2 linked regions of the Homo sapiens genome follow. The protein of the gene in region 2 interacts with the protein of the main gene of each other region in a pairwise test. Each region holds a gene or a part of one and is shown on either strand. Other genes may lie near its edges.

The links.
Region 1: the proteins of CTNNBL1 (region 2) and PRDM4 interact in binary tests that used the Homo sapiens proteins (3 or more experiments, as listed by UniProt).

Annotation. Positions count from the first base shown.
Region 1 is NC_000012.12:107,732,295-107,737,351, reverse strand, and holds the end of PRDM4 (PR domain zinc finger protein 4), read left to right. Parts: intron 1-404; exon of another isoform or gene 405-797; intron 798-2,829; coding exon 2,830-3,142; 3' UTR 3,143-4,481; downstream 4,482-5,057. UniProt on the Homo sapiens protein: May function as a transcription factor involved in cell differentiation.
Region 2 is NC_000020.11:37,865,018-37,872,307, reverse strand, and holds the end of CTNNBL1 (beta-catenin-like protein 1), read right to left. Parts: intron 384-7,290; coding exon 295-383; 3' UTR 190-294; downstream 1-189. UniProt on the Homo sapiens protein: Component of the PRP19-CDC5L complex that forms an integral part of the spliceosome and is required for activating pre-mRNA splicing.

The sequences.
Region 1 (5,057 bases), on a different chromosome or scaffold from region 2:
TTTAGGCTTCCTATGGAGATCGTTGGTAAAATTTTCAGATGCTTGTATTTTTACTTTGGGGCATTTCAAAGTGGATATAGTAGTATTAGCAGTCTTTTTATTTATCTACTTAAAAAAAACAGCTACAGCCCTAATGCCAAATGCAAGAGGAGTTCCCCCCCTAGTGTCCCCCGAGAGTGGAAGGGTGGTGACAGAACCTGGCTTTGCCCTTCCTGTAAGAAAGAGGAAGTGAGCAGAAGAACAGTGATGTTTACTCCCCAGGTCATCTTGTCTCATGGCTTTAGATACCGTCATATGATTTATGTCTCCACCCTCATACACCTCACCATCACTCAGCGGCTCTGATGCTGGATGTTCGCTAGGCAACTTAAATCTTATGTGTCCAAAACTCAACCCAGTATTACCCCATGAATTTGATTTCCTCCAGTGCTGAGCAGCTCATTAAATGGCACCACCATTATTCACCTCAATGGTCAAGCCAAACACCTTGAAGTAATTCTCAACTCAGTTTTTCCTTCCTTCCTTCATTCAACTAACACCTTGTCCAGACCACCAGCTTTTCTTCTATGGATGGCTTCAGTAGCCTCCCAGTTGATCTCCCTGCCACTACTTGCTGTTTCTCCTCATCTACTCCGCAACACAGATGAACACACATACACACAGTTTTCTGTCCGCAGTGCCAGAGCAATCCATTTCAAATATAAGTCAGATTGTGCCTGTCTCCACTCATACATCTCTGGTGGCTTTCCATCGTATTTGTGTTAAAAGCTTTTTACAGCAGTCAGAAGGCCCTTTATGATGTAATAGTACTTGGCTACCTCTCCCTTCACCTTTTCTTACTTTTCATATTCTGCTTTGGCCACTCTGACCCTCCCCTTGCTACTCCTTGAGCATACTAAGCACATCCAGTCTCAGGGCCTCTGCCTTAGAAACTTCTCCCTCCAGATGCCTGCATGTCTTCTTCCCTCCATTCAGGTTTCTGCTCAAATGTTATCTCCTCAGGAGGGCCTTCCTTGACTATCTTATCTAAAATAGGACCCCTTCACTTTTACCTGGCTTCGTGTGTTTTCGTAGTCTTTATTGCTATATGATACCACGTTACACATTTGTTTATGCTATAATCTGTCCACTTAGAATGTAAGCTTCATGAAAGCAGGGACTTAGTTTACCCACATCCTATAGCCCTAGCATCTAGAACAGTGCCTGGCATAATTAGACACAGTAAATATGTGTTGAATAAACATCTAAAAACCATCAGAGTAGAAGATGAAAAGTCAGACTTTTGGTAGGGGTTTTGTTGTGGCCTTGGGCAAGTTCCTTAGTAGTTTTTATGCACATGATGTTTCCCATCTGCAGAATTAAGAGGTTGGATTAGATTGGTGGTTTTAAAACTGCTCCAGGGAATTCTAAGGGTTCTTCAGTGCCATCTGTTGCTAGAAGAGGATGAGAGAAATGCTAAGGAAGCCAGGCTTCAGAACGCCCGACTGCACCCTCTCACTCCTTCCAGGATTTTATTAATAACCTGCTTTAACTGTTTCATATTGGGCTTTCATAAAGACATGGGGTTCAGCTACTCAAAAAAAAAAAAAAAGCTAAAAAATTCCTGGTCTGTGTGATCTCTAAGGTTCTTTTCAGCTCTGAAATGTCTAGGCCAGGGTTACTCAAACCTTGACATTATTGACATTTTGACCGGGTTAATTTTTTGTTGTGGGGCTGCCCTGTGCATTGTAGAATGGTTAGCAGCATCCTTGGCCTTTTCCTACTAGATACTAATTATACCACCCCTCCCCAGTATAACAATCAGAAAGGACTCCAGACATTGCCAAATGTCCCCATAGAGGCAGTCGCCCCTACTTGAGAACCACTAGTCTAAGAAAAGGACAGAAAAATGGTAATTCCATAAAAGTGGCATCCAGGGAATACAAATAACGGTGTAATGAGATACCATTATGTACTGGCTAATTGGCAGACATTTTCAAATTTGAGTCTTCCAGTTGAGAATATGGGACAACCAGAACCGTCAATGATGGATGTGTATATTGAAACAACTACATTGGAAAACCGTTTGTCATTATCTTGTAAAGTTGAAGATGTGCATATCCTTTGATTTAGCTATATAGTTCTTGGGTATGTGCCCTAGAGAAACATGTATTGCAGAGCACCATACAAGTATAAAAATGTTCAAATGCCAGGTACAGTGGCATGCACCTGTAGTCCCAGGTACTTGGGAGGCTGAGGCGGACAGATCACTTGAGCCCAGGAGTTCAAGGCTGTAGTGCATGATGATCACACCTGTGAATAGCCATTGCACTCCAGTCTGGGCAACATGGTGGGACCCTGTCTCTAAAAAATAATAATAAAAATTTAAAAAAATTTAAAAACGTTCTAGCACTTTTGCTTGTGATAATAAAAAACTGGAAACCACCAAAACATTCATTAGCTAGAGACAAATCCAGTACCATAGATAAGTTGTGGTGTATTTGTATATTTGTAAATAGTATACAGCAGTGGAAGGGAACAAACAACTGATACAGCAGCTTGAATGAATTTTATGAGCATCATACTGAGAGAATGCAGCAAGACAAAAGAAATACATATAGAATTTACATAGAATTTGAGAATTTACATAGTATTCTAAAACAGGAAAAATGAGCCTACACTGTTTTAAACTATACATGTTTTATGAGTCTTCTGTATATCACCTATGCAAAAGCCTGATTCAGAAGGATAGAGCTGCTCTGACAAAGGCCTGCGGCTATGAAGAATAAGTGTTGCCTCAGTTGTTATTTGTAACCCCAAATCAAATGTTTTTTCTTGTGTTCCTCTTAGAGAACGCCAGATCAAGTGTCCCAAGTGTGATAAGCTGTTCTTGAGAACAAATCACTTAAAGAAGCATCTCAATTCTCATGAAGGAAAACGGGATTATGTCTGTGAAAAATGTACAAAGGCTTATCTAACCAAATACCATCTCACCCGCCACCTGAAAACCTGCAAAGGGCCCACCTCCAGTTCGTCAGCACCAGAGGAGGAAGAAGAGGATGACTCAGAAGAGGAAGATCTAGCAGACTCTGTGGGGACAGAAGACTGTAGGATTAACAGTGCTGTGTATTCAGCGGATGAGTCTCTTTCTGCACATAAATAAAAGGAAAAGAAACAAGCAATTTTGGATGAAAATGCAAATGGAAAAATACACATAACCAGTTATCTACTATAATGGTTTTTATATAAAATGGTTCCTGATTTATTTTCAGCCAGTAATCAAAACAGACTGGGAATGAATAAAGCACTTACAGAAGAGTATCCTAATGAAAACACTTTAAAACAGATTGGGAAAACTGAGCATGTGTCCTGTTTTAAGTGGTGGACTGGGAGGGAAGTGTCAACTTCTGAGGTCTTTATTTACATGATAATCTGGGAGATGCATTTATGCCTGAATCAAAGCTGCCTTCTGCTCAAACAAATCAGATTTATTTCACATTCTTCCATTATTCCATTTTCCTGCTGGTCCTGTGACTTGGTAACATTCTAAACGGTCCTTGCCCCATAGCCATCCTGATTGCTGATAGTGTTTTATGCAGACTCTTGTGACTTATACTCACCACAGAATGGATTGGGACACAGCAGCATAAGTGTGCTACTTGGCAGCTAGTAAGTTTAAAGCAGGACCTGCCTTAACTGCTCCTGGCCACTTGGAAGTTTAGGGTAGATCTTGTTTTCCAAAGTTTCGGCAGGTGCCTGGAGGGCAAATAAAAAAGCAGCAGTCAGTCAGTAGTCAGTGATGGAGAGAACAAGAGGAGAGATGCCTGGCCTCTGCCCAAGAAATTAGCTTTGATGGAAGCCTGAGCAAGTCACCTGGTTATTGTAACGTGGAGATCTTTGTAGGTTTAGACATGGCTCCCTGTCTCCAGTAAACATCCAGCCATTCAGACAAAGGGGGCCTGGAGATACAGAGAGCCCAAATAATGCCTGCTGGATTGTCTCCTGATGAGTACATGTGGACTCACCTGAGGAAGGGAAGGAAGGGAATAATCTTTTATGTTTCATTTACCTTATGAAAAGTGTTAAAACATTGCCAACTCAAAATAACATTATTTAATGCATGTGCAAAGTTAGGTCTTCCCAGTTGTCTCAGTGCTGAGGAACCTCATCAGAGAAGCATGGAAGATGCCAAAGGATTTTTGGAAGGTAAAGAAGGCTGAATAGTGACCACATGGGCCTGTTTTCAGGGTCCCAGCTTAGTTAAGTCACCCATGCACCTGGTCATTGTGTCTCCCATGCACATCCAGCGTTTCTCAGAAGCAGACCCACCCTTAAGTTGACAGGATTGATGGAACATGCTCTCCTGCTCAAGGCACAACCTCTGGGCTGGAGTAGAGGACTCTGGTGGGAAGGTTTTGCTGCTAATGTATTTATGGAATGAATGTATTTCATTCAAATCTGTATTCCTCTAGGAAGGATTAAAATTAAACTTTTTTAAAATACAGGATTCCTCTGGTAGTCTCATTTCATGGAGGAAGGAGATGAGTGAGTCTTCTAGGGAAAGTCAAGTACAATTTGAATCTTTCTGAGGTTAGAAGAAGAGAGCATTTCTAGAGTATTTTAGCTTTTGAGATCATATTCTTATTGTTTCTGCTGTTAGTACTTAAGACAAACTGCTTCCTGTGCTTCCAACCCTCTTCTGCCCTGTTCCTGCCTAAGGTATGCCTTTACTCTGTTACCTCCTTGGAGAAATGTGGCAGGTCTGCAGTGGAGGGTTGGGGGATGTGTTGCGGATGGTTAGGGTTGGCTGCTGACACTGGGTCGTGACGCCTCCCTCAGGGCAGCTCTGGTTCCTAGGGCAGCTTCAAACTCAGCATTTTGCCAAAGGCATCCAGCTGGCTGGTTCCCCCATACCCAGGAAACCACTGGTACTGGGACTCTAAGCTCCCTTTCTTCCTTTATCTCAGTAGCACACACTGGGTTCACTTCCTTCATTCCCAAGACTGAAATGATGCCCAAGATAGTTACGCCTAGTGTCAGAGGAACACAAACAGCAGAGGAAGCTTGGAAACCTTTTT
Region 2 (7,290 bases):
AGCAGCACCACCTGCGTAGCCACAGTGGCGAAGTTGTCACTGCTACACCCTCTGAGCCTCAGCTTTCTTGCAGGCGGAGTGAGGCTGCCCATGTGCCTTCCCTGGGGGAGTCCTGAAGTAGCTGCTGTGGGGAGGGGGCAGGGAGGGTCAGCAGGCGAAGCTTAACTACAAAGAAAACTGGCCCGGGGATACCAAAACTAGCTTTAATTTGTCCAAAAGCCACACAGAGTTGTGTAGAAACTGATCCTGGGAGGGAAGCTGAGAGAGTCCATGATGCGCAGGGCCAAGGTGCCTCTAGAAGTTCTCCAGCAAGCCCAGGATGCGCTTTTGCTCGTTCTCCCGGAACTCCGGGCTCCGGCCGTCCCCGATGTTCTCTGCATACTCTAGGGGGACAAAGATAGAGTCAGGAGTGGATCCCAGGCATGGCATCCACCGTGGCTGCGTCGCTTCATACCTTTCCCAGAACCCCAGCTCCCACAGAGGTGCAAGTCGCCCTAATGCCCCCACTGTAGCCAAATTCCTTGGGGTCTTGCCTTTGAGGCCTCAGTGGAAAGGTCCCAACTTACCTTTCCATGCTTGGATTCCCCTCCTAGCCACACCCTTCACTTCCGCCCTCATGTATTTATTCACTCAACACACATGGCGTGGATGCTACTAAGGTCTGAATGTTTGTGTCCCCTCCAAAACTCATGCTGAAACCTCATCCTCAACGCATCGAAGGCCTTTATGGGGTGATTAGGTTCTTACCATCTAATTATAAGATTAGATTAGGTCTAGATTAGGTCTAATCTAGGGGGATTAGACCCTTGCAAAAGGACTGCAGGGAACTCTCAAGACCCTTTGCCCTTCCCCCTTCTGCAATGTGAGGATGCAATAGGACGGCCCTCAGCAGACACCAAAGGTTGGGGCAGTGCTCTTGGACCCCCCGCCTCCAGAATTGTGAGGAAGTACATTTCTGTTCTTCATAAATTACCCAGTCTCAGGGATTTTGTTACAGCAGCACGAACAGACTAAGACAGACACCAGCTGGGCAGGCACTGCTCTGGGTGAGTGGTTCTGAGTGTGGACCCGAGCAGCAGCAGCAGCAGCAGCACTGCATGGAAACTTACTAGAAACACAAATTCTTGGGACCACCCTAGACCCACTTAACAGGAAACGGGTGGGGCCCAGTGATCTGGGATTTATTGAGTCTCCAGGTGATGCTGATGTATGCTCCAGTTTGAGAACCTTTTTTTGGGAATGGGAATAAAGCAGTGATAGAAACAGATGCAAATTTCTGCTTGTGTGGAGCCTACTTTCTAGTGAGGGTCACAAACCAAAAAGTGAACAAAATACACAGGTGGCTGTCAGCAGGGAGTATCTGCTTAAAGATCAGAAGGAGATGAGTGTGGAAAGGTCTAGGAGCGAGTGGCAGGGCAGCCAGGGCAGAGGATCTAAGGGGAGGCACTTCTTTGGTTTATCTGAGGGTCAGCGAAGAGGTCAGCGTGGCCACAGCCTGGAGCCACGGGAGGGGCCATACCCAGATGGTGTGGGTCTGTGCACCACGGTAAGGGCTGTGGCCTTTCTGTGCGGTGGGTCCTGAGCAGAAAGGAATGACGTGATTTGACTTTTGCCAGATCCCTCTCAATGCTGTGTGGGGGACACCATGGGGGAAGCAAAGGCAGGGAAAGGAGATGCGACGTGACAGTGGCCTGGATTGGGCAGGTAGCGGTGGAGGTGAGGCGACGTCTTCAGCTTCTTGATGTTTTCTGAGGGTGGCTCCAATAGGATTTACAGATAGACCGGAAATGGGGTGTGAGAAAGAGATATGGATGTTGCAATCACCAAGAAATATGACAAGAGCATTGGGGAGGCTGACAGTGAGCCCAGAATCCCCGCAAGGACTGGGGGCACAGGTGCTGGTGCCAACAACAGGGAGGGGCTGTCGGGGGGTGCAGTCCCCCGACACAAACTTCGACAGCTGGGTGTATTCGGGGAAGGGAGGGAGAGAGAATAGTCTAGAAGTACTGGAGCATGGAAGACCCCTCCTATGTCTCCAGTGGCAGGAGGGGTGTAGGAGCACCAGGTTTCAGTGAGACCAGGAAGAGAAAGGAAATATTCCTGAGGAGGGTGAGGCTCTGGGCACAGTTCTGGCAACAGATCAGCAGAGGATGCCATCAGAGAGTGTCATGGTGGGCAGGCTTGTGTTCTTGTCTCCCCTGTTGTCCCAGCACAGTGATCCTTAAGACGCCATTTCTTTTTTTTTAGTGTCCTCGTCCCCCAAAATAACATGGTCACCCTGTTTTTTTTTTTTTTTAGGAGATGGCGAGGGATGATTTGGTGACTCTGGACTTCCTGCGGTGGCTCCTAGAGCAAGTGTAGGGGATCTGGTGGGAGGGGAAGGGGGAGGATGGGGTGGTCCAACCCTTCACTGCCCTCTGACTGTCCCCTGCCCACAGCCAGAGAGGAAAAGGCAATCAAATCCTAGCTCTGACTCACAACTGTGCCCTTGGGTGGTCCCCTCTGAAAATGTTCAAATAACAAACGTCCAGGGAACATTAGTTCCCTCCCTCAGCCTCCTTTGCTCAGGCCAGTAATGGCACTGGGGAAGTCCCACACCTCCTCCGGGTCCCCTCCTGAGATGTCTTCTCTGTGAAAGCCTGCCTGGTCACCTCTCACTCCCACACCCGGCCCCAGGCCACTGCCTCCAGCACATGTGGGCCTGACTGCTAGACCATCCTCCACCCAGCCCCTCTCTCCCTAGACAGAGAGCTGCATGAAGGCAGGGGCTTTCGCCTTCCTCCCAGCTAAGCCTGGCCGAGGGCCCCCCAGCAGAGTGTCGTGCTGAAGGATCTCCTGCAGTGGGTGACTAGGATGGCTGCCTGCACTTCTGCCCCCTGGTCCCTTACTGGGGCCTGGCTTGAGAAAGAAAATGGAGAGAACTCTCTAGTAAGAGGCTTTTGCATAATAAAACACCTGCTGATCCAAACCAGACAAAGACTGGGGAGACAAAGCATGTGACCTCTCACCCCTCCCCTGTCAGCCCCACCCCTGCCAATGCTGGGGAAGTAATTTTGCTCCTGCTACCTCTTTATTTTGCCCCGTTCCTCTTTATTACTTTGGTCGTGTGCCAGAAAATGGGATGTGGGATTCAGGCATGTGCCAGCTGTGTGTCTACCCCCAGAAATCCTCTTCTGTTAGGCCCATCCATCACCTCCAACAGCAAGTGGTTGTGATGCCTCCTATTAAGGCCCCTTAGAGAGAGGGCCAGGGTGATGGAGACAGGAACTGAGCTTTGGCAGAAGGCTCTGGGGCTGTGTGTAAGTGGTATCTCTTACTCACATGTGAATGATATAGTTGCTGCCCCAGGAGAGAGAGAAATGACCATTATGGCATCTAATATCCCCGGAGGCATGGTCTGGAAGCAGGAGTCTTAATGGATTGAGCTAACACTTTGCTCTCCTAATGTCTTCTCAGACCCAGGAGAGAGGGAAGTGGAGAAACAGTCCGATGCTGTGGGGCAGTGATTTTCCAACAGTAAAGCCGGCTTCCCTGAGTTCTTTCTAGGGATGTACGAAGCAGAGGGAACCCACACCTGCATCAATCCCTTTGCCGAATCACCTGTGCCGAGGCCTCGCTTACATATGCCGACGGTACACAGAGCACCCATCCTATGCGCAAGTCTCCTGTGTCACTCCAACTGTGCTAAGAAGCAAACAGTCACATCACCCATTCTCTGGAAAGGGGATATCCGACTGGCCCACAGGCAGTGAATGGCTTAGTGTCCCCTGGAAGAGGGCCTGTCCCATACAGAGCGGAGTGGAACTAACATGTGCTGTGCACTGCTATGTGCCTGCATTTTCTAGGTTGTCTCACATGTAACCTTTGCATCAATCTCACAAGGTAAAGAACACCATCCCTACTTACCCAGGGGGAAACAGAGGCTATCAGAGAACTGAAGCAACCCGCCCAAGTCTAGGATGTAGAGGAGCCGGAATTCAAACCTTGAAATGTGTGGATAGTAAAAAAAAAAAAGGCCCCTAAAAAACCACTGGGAGGGGGCCGGTCCTCACAGCAGCATCCTGTTACCTAAGCAACAGGCTACCCTGCCTGGCCCCTAGTCTTTGGGAAAAAAAACTCTGCTCTGTGAGCATTCCAAAACAGGAATGTCTTATGGTACAGTGGCCTCGGTGGCCAGGACAGATGTGGGTGGACTGGCTGGGGTCACCCTCTCTTATGCCAAGTTACCAAATATCAGAGTTGGAAGGGTTCTCAGAAATTTATTGCAGCCCTGAGGGGGCACGTGGATGGCCAGGGTCCCACAGTGAGCCGGCCACGGAGCCAGGCCCAGAACCAGGTCCGACGACCCGGCCTAGTACTCATCCACTGGCCTAGTGCTCATCCACTGCCCGGGGAAGCTGCACCCTCAGGCACCTCAACCTCACCCTTTGCCCTTGCTCATTCTTTGTTTCTATGGCAGAGTCCTATTTAGAGCAAATCTTGGTGGTGCCAGCTACCTCTGGTTATTACAGCTGCTGCAGCAGTTTAAATATTGAACAGAGTCCTCCCAGAGGTCTTGGGAAAGAGTTCTCTCTGCTGCATGTGTGTGTGCGTGTGTGCGTGTGTGCATGTGTATGTAAGAGGAAAAGAGACTGCAGGATGAGGGGAGAGGGAGAAAAGGATGAGGGGAGAGAGGGAAGAGGCTAAGTCAGTGGAGAGTGAGAAAGACGGCATACACGTCAACTCCTTTCTCTACTTCCCCCACATTTTCAAATGCTCTTATAATAAAGGCTTTGATGGAACTCAGAAACAGGCAGCAGTGCTGAACGCATAAATATTAAAGCAAACTTTAGACAGCAGGTTTACTATTCAGACATGGAATACAAGCTGTTCTGTTTATGTTGAGAGGGAGAGGGAGGGGGCACTGGGGCTGGTGGATGGGGAAAAGTCGTCTTCCAGGGCGGAGACCTGGATGAGTATTCACAAGCCTGGTTCAGATCCATGAACCTTAAGCCTTACATGTTCACCTTTTTAAAAATGCAGGAGGAAGAGGGAGGAGAGAGGAGGAATGCCCAATATTTTCACATTGAAAACCCTTGAAGATGTACATATAACCACAAAATAGAAACTGAGAAAGGAAAATCCTTCAGGTCTAACAGAGATTCCTTGACAACAACAATGAACTTGGAAGGTTGAAAGTTGCGCTTCTCCAGAAGTAGAATATTTTGCTAGGCAGTAGGTTCTCATTTCATCAGGGATGCCATTCAAATGAAACCCACTTACAGAGAAAGACCCTTGCTCTTGCTTACAATGCCAATGGTCATGTTCTCAGAGTCCCATGGATGTTTTACACAGTTGGAAAAGCACCCACTGACAACCACCCACCCCCACAAGGCCCCGGGGAAGTCGAGCCTGTGTGCTGGTCCCTGCTTTTCCTGGTGGCATCTCAGTCCAAGCTGCTGCTAACTCCAGGCGAAAGGATTAGGTCAAGGAAGGAAGGAACTTCCATTTACTGAGTATGTAACTTGGTCCCAGGCACCCAACTGCATTTTAACTTTGGAGGCTTCCTGAGAGAGGCAATATTTATTTTAGGTGTTTTTTTCTTTGTGTTTTTTACAGAGGAGGAAACCAAGACTTAAATATGTTACCTACTAACTTGCCCAGAGTTACATGGAGATCCAGAATTTATGTTGGTCTGAGCATCTCTGTTCCTGGGTGAGCTTGGACACTAATTATAACAATAAAGACAGCTAACATGTAACAGGCACTTTCTTCTAGGTGCCAGCCACCATGCGAGCACTGTACATACAGCACTTCACCTCATTCTCACAGCAGCCTTCTGAGACAGGTTCTCCCCATCTTACAGATGCAGGAGCTATGGCTTGGAGAGGGGAAGAGCTGCCTGAGGTCAGACACTAGAAAGCGACAGAGCTTGCTTGTGAACCTGGGCAACTCACTGCAGGCTCCATGGTCTTAGCACAGTTGGTTCTCCAAGAGTGGTTCCCCCCGACCCCTGCATACCACCACCACACTACCCCGGGCAGCGCTTCCCGAGAGCCCTCTTGGGTGAACTGGGTGTGAGGCCCGGGGGCAGCAATCCTAAGGCAAATGTGACATCTTTGCTGAAAAGCTCTTGAGGTGTCCTTAAGATGCCTCTGAGCCTTGTCAAGGCCGCTGGCTACAGGGCTAACATACAGGCCTCTCTCCATGATCCTTTCCTGCCTCCAAATACCCTGTGGGACACCGTATCCATGACCAGGCGCAAGCCACGCACATGCCAACATGTCATCCAAAGATAAATCCTATCAGCCTCTGCAGCTTTAAAATCACACAAATTGGGTTACCAAGAGCCCCAAATCAATATGGAAATACATGTTTATGAGCTACTAGGAGGAGATTTTAAACCATAAAGAATACTCGCAAATCAAAGGGCCATGGGCCAAATTCTAAAAGCATTTAAGTTTCTGGCTCATTCTTTTCGCCCAGCAGTGAGAGAGTTTTGAGTCAGTAATCCTCTAAGATTTTCTCTGCAAACCAGCCACTGTGCAGTAGCCATGGCTGCTCCTGGGCATCTGTGTGGTCCTCCAACAACTTTCACCAGGAGACTAAAACATCGATAAGACTGGCCAGTGGCTTCCACTGCAACCCTTGGCACAAATATTTGTATTTCGAAGCATTCTCGGGTCACAGCTCCTACGCCACAGCCAAGGTGATGACTGCTCAACAATGCCCATGCGTAGCTGCCTGCGGAAACCCTTCCCATGCAGGCAGCCACAGAGACAGAATGCAGAATAGTGGCTGCCAGGGGCTGGGGGGAGGGAGGAACGGGCAATTCCAGTTTTGCAAGATGAAAAAAAGGCCTGTGGATAGATGGTAGTGATGGTAGTAATAGTCAAAACGATAAATTATTACTACAATAATAAAAAATAAAAAAGAAGCCATGCCTTCCGTACAGCTTCCCTGGATCTTTGGGCTCCTTTTCATGTCCAGCCGGATTAACTGTGAGTTAACTGTGCCGTCTTCATTCCCCTTGTACCTCTGCATCCCAGCACTGGCTCCATTCTGCTTTGCGCTATGGTCAGTCACCTCACTTGTGAGGGACGTATGCCTGTTGGGGACAGGGTCTCCTGAGTGTCTCACTTATCTTAGAAGCCTGCCTAGCACCCTGTGATGTCAAATTGGTGCTCTCTAAAGGTGAGTGCCCTGCATTTTTCTTCTCTCCTAAAAGCCCATAGGAGCATATGGGCCAATCAGCAGTTGGCACATTCCTTACCGCTGTGCATAGCTCCTTCTGAGTCTGGATCCAGTTTA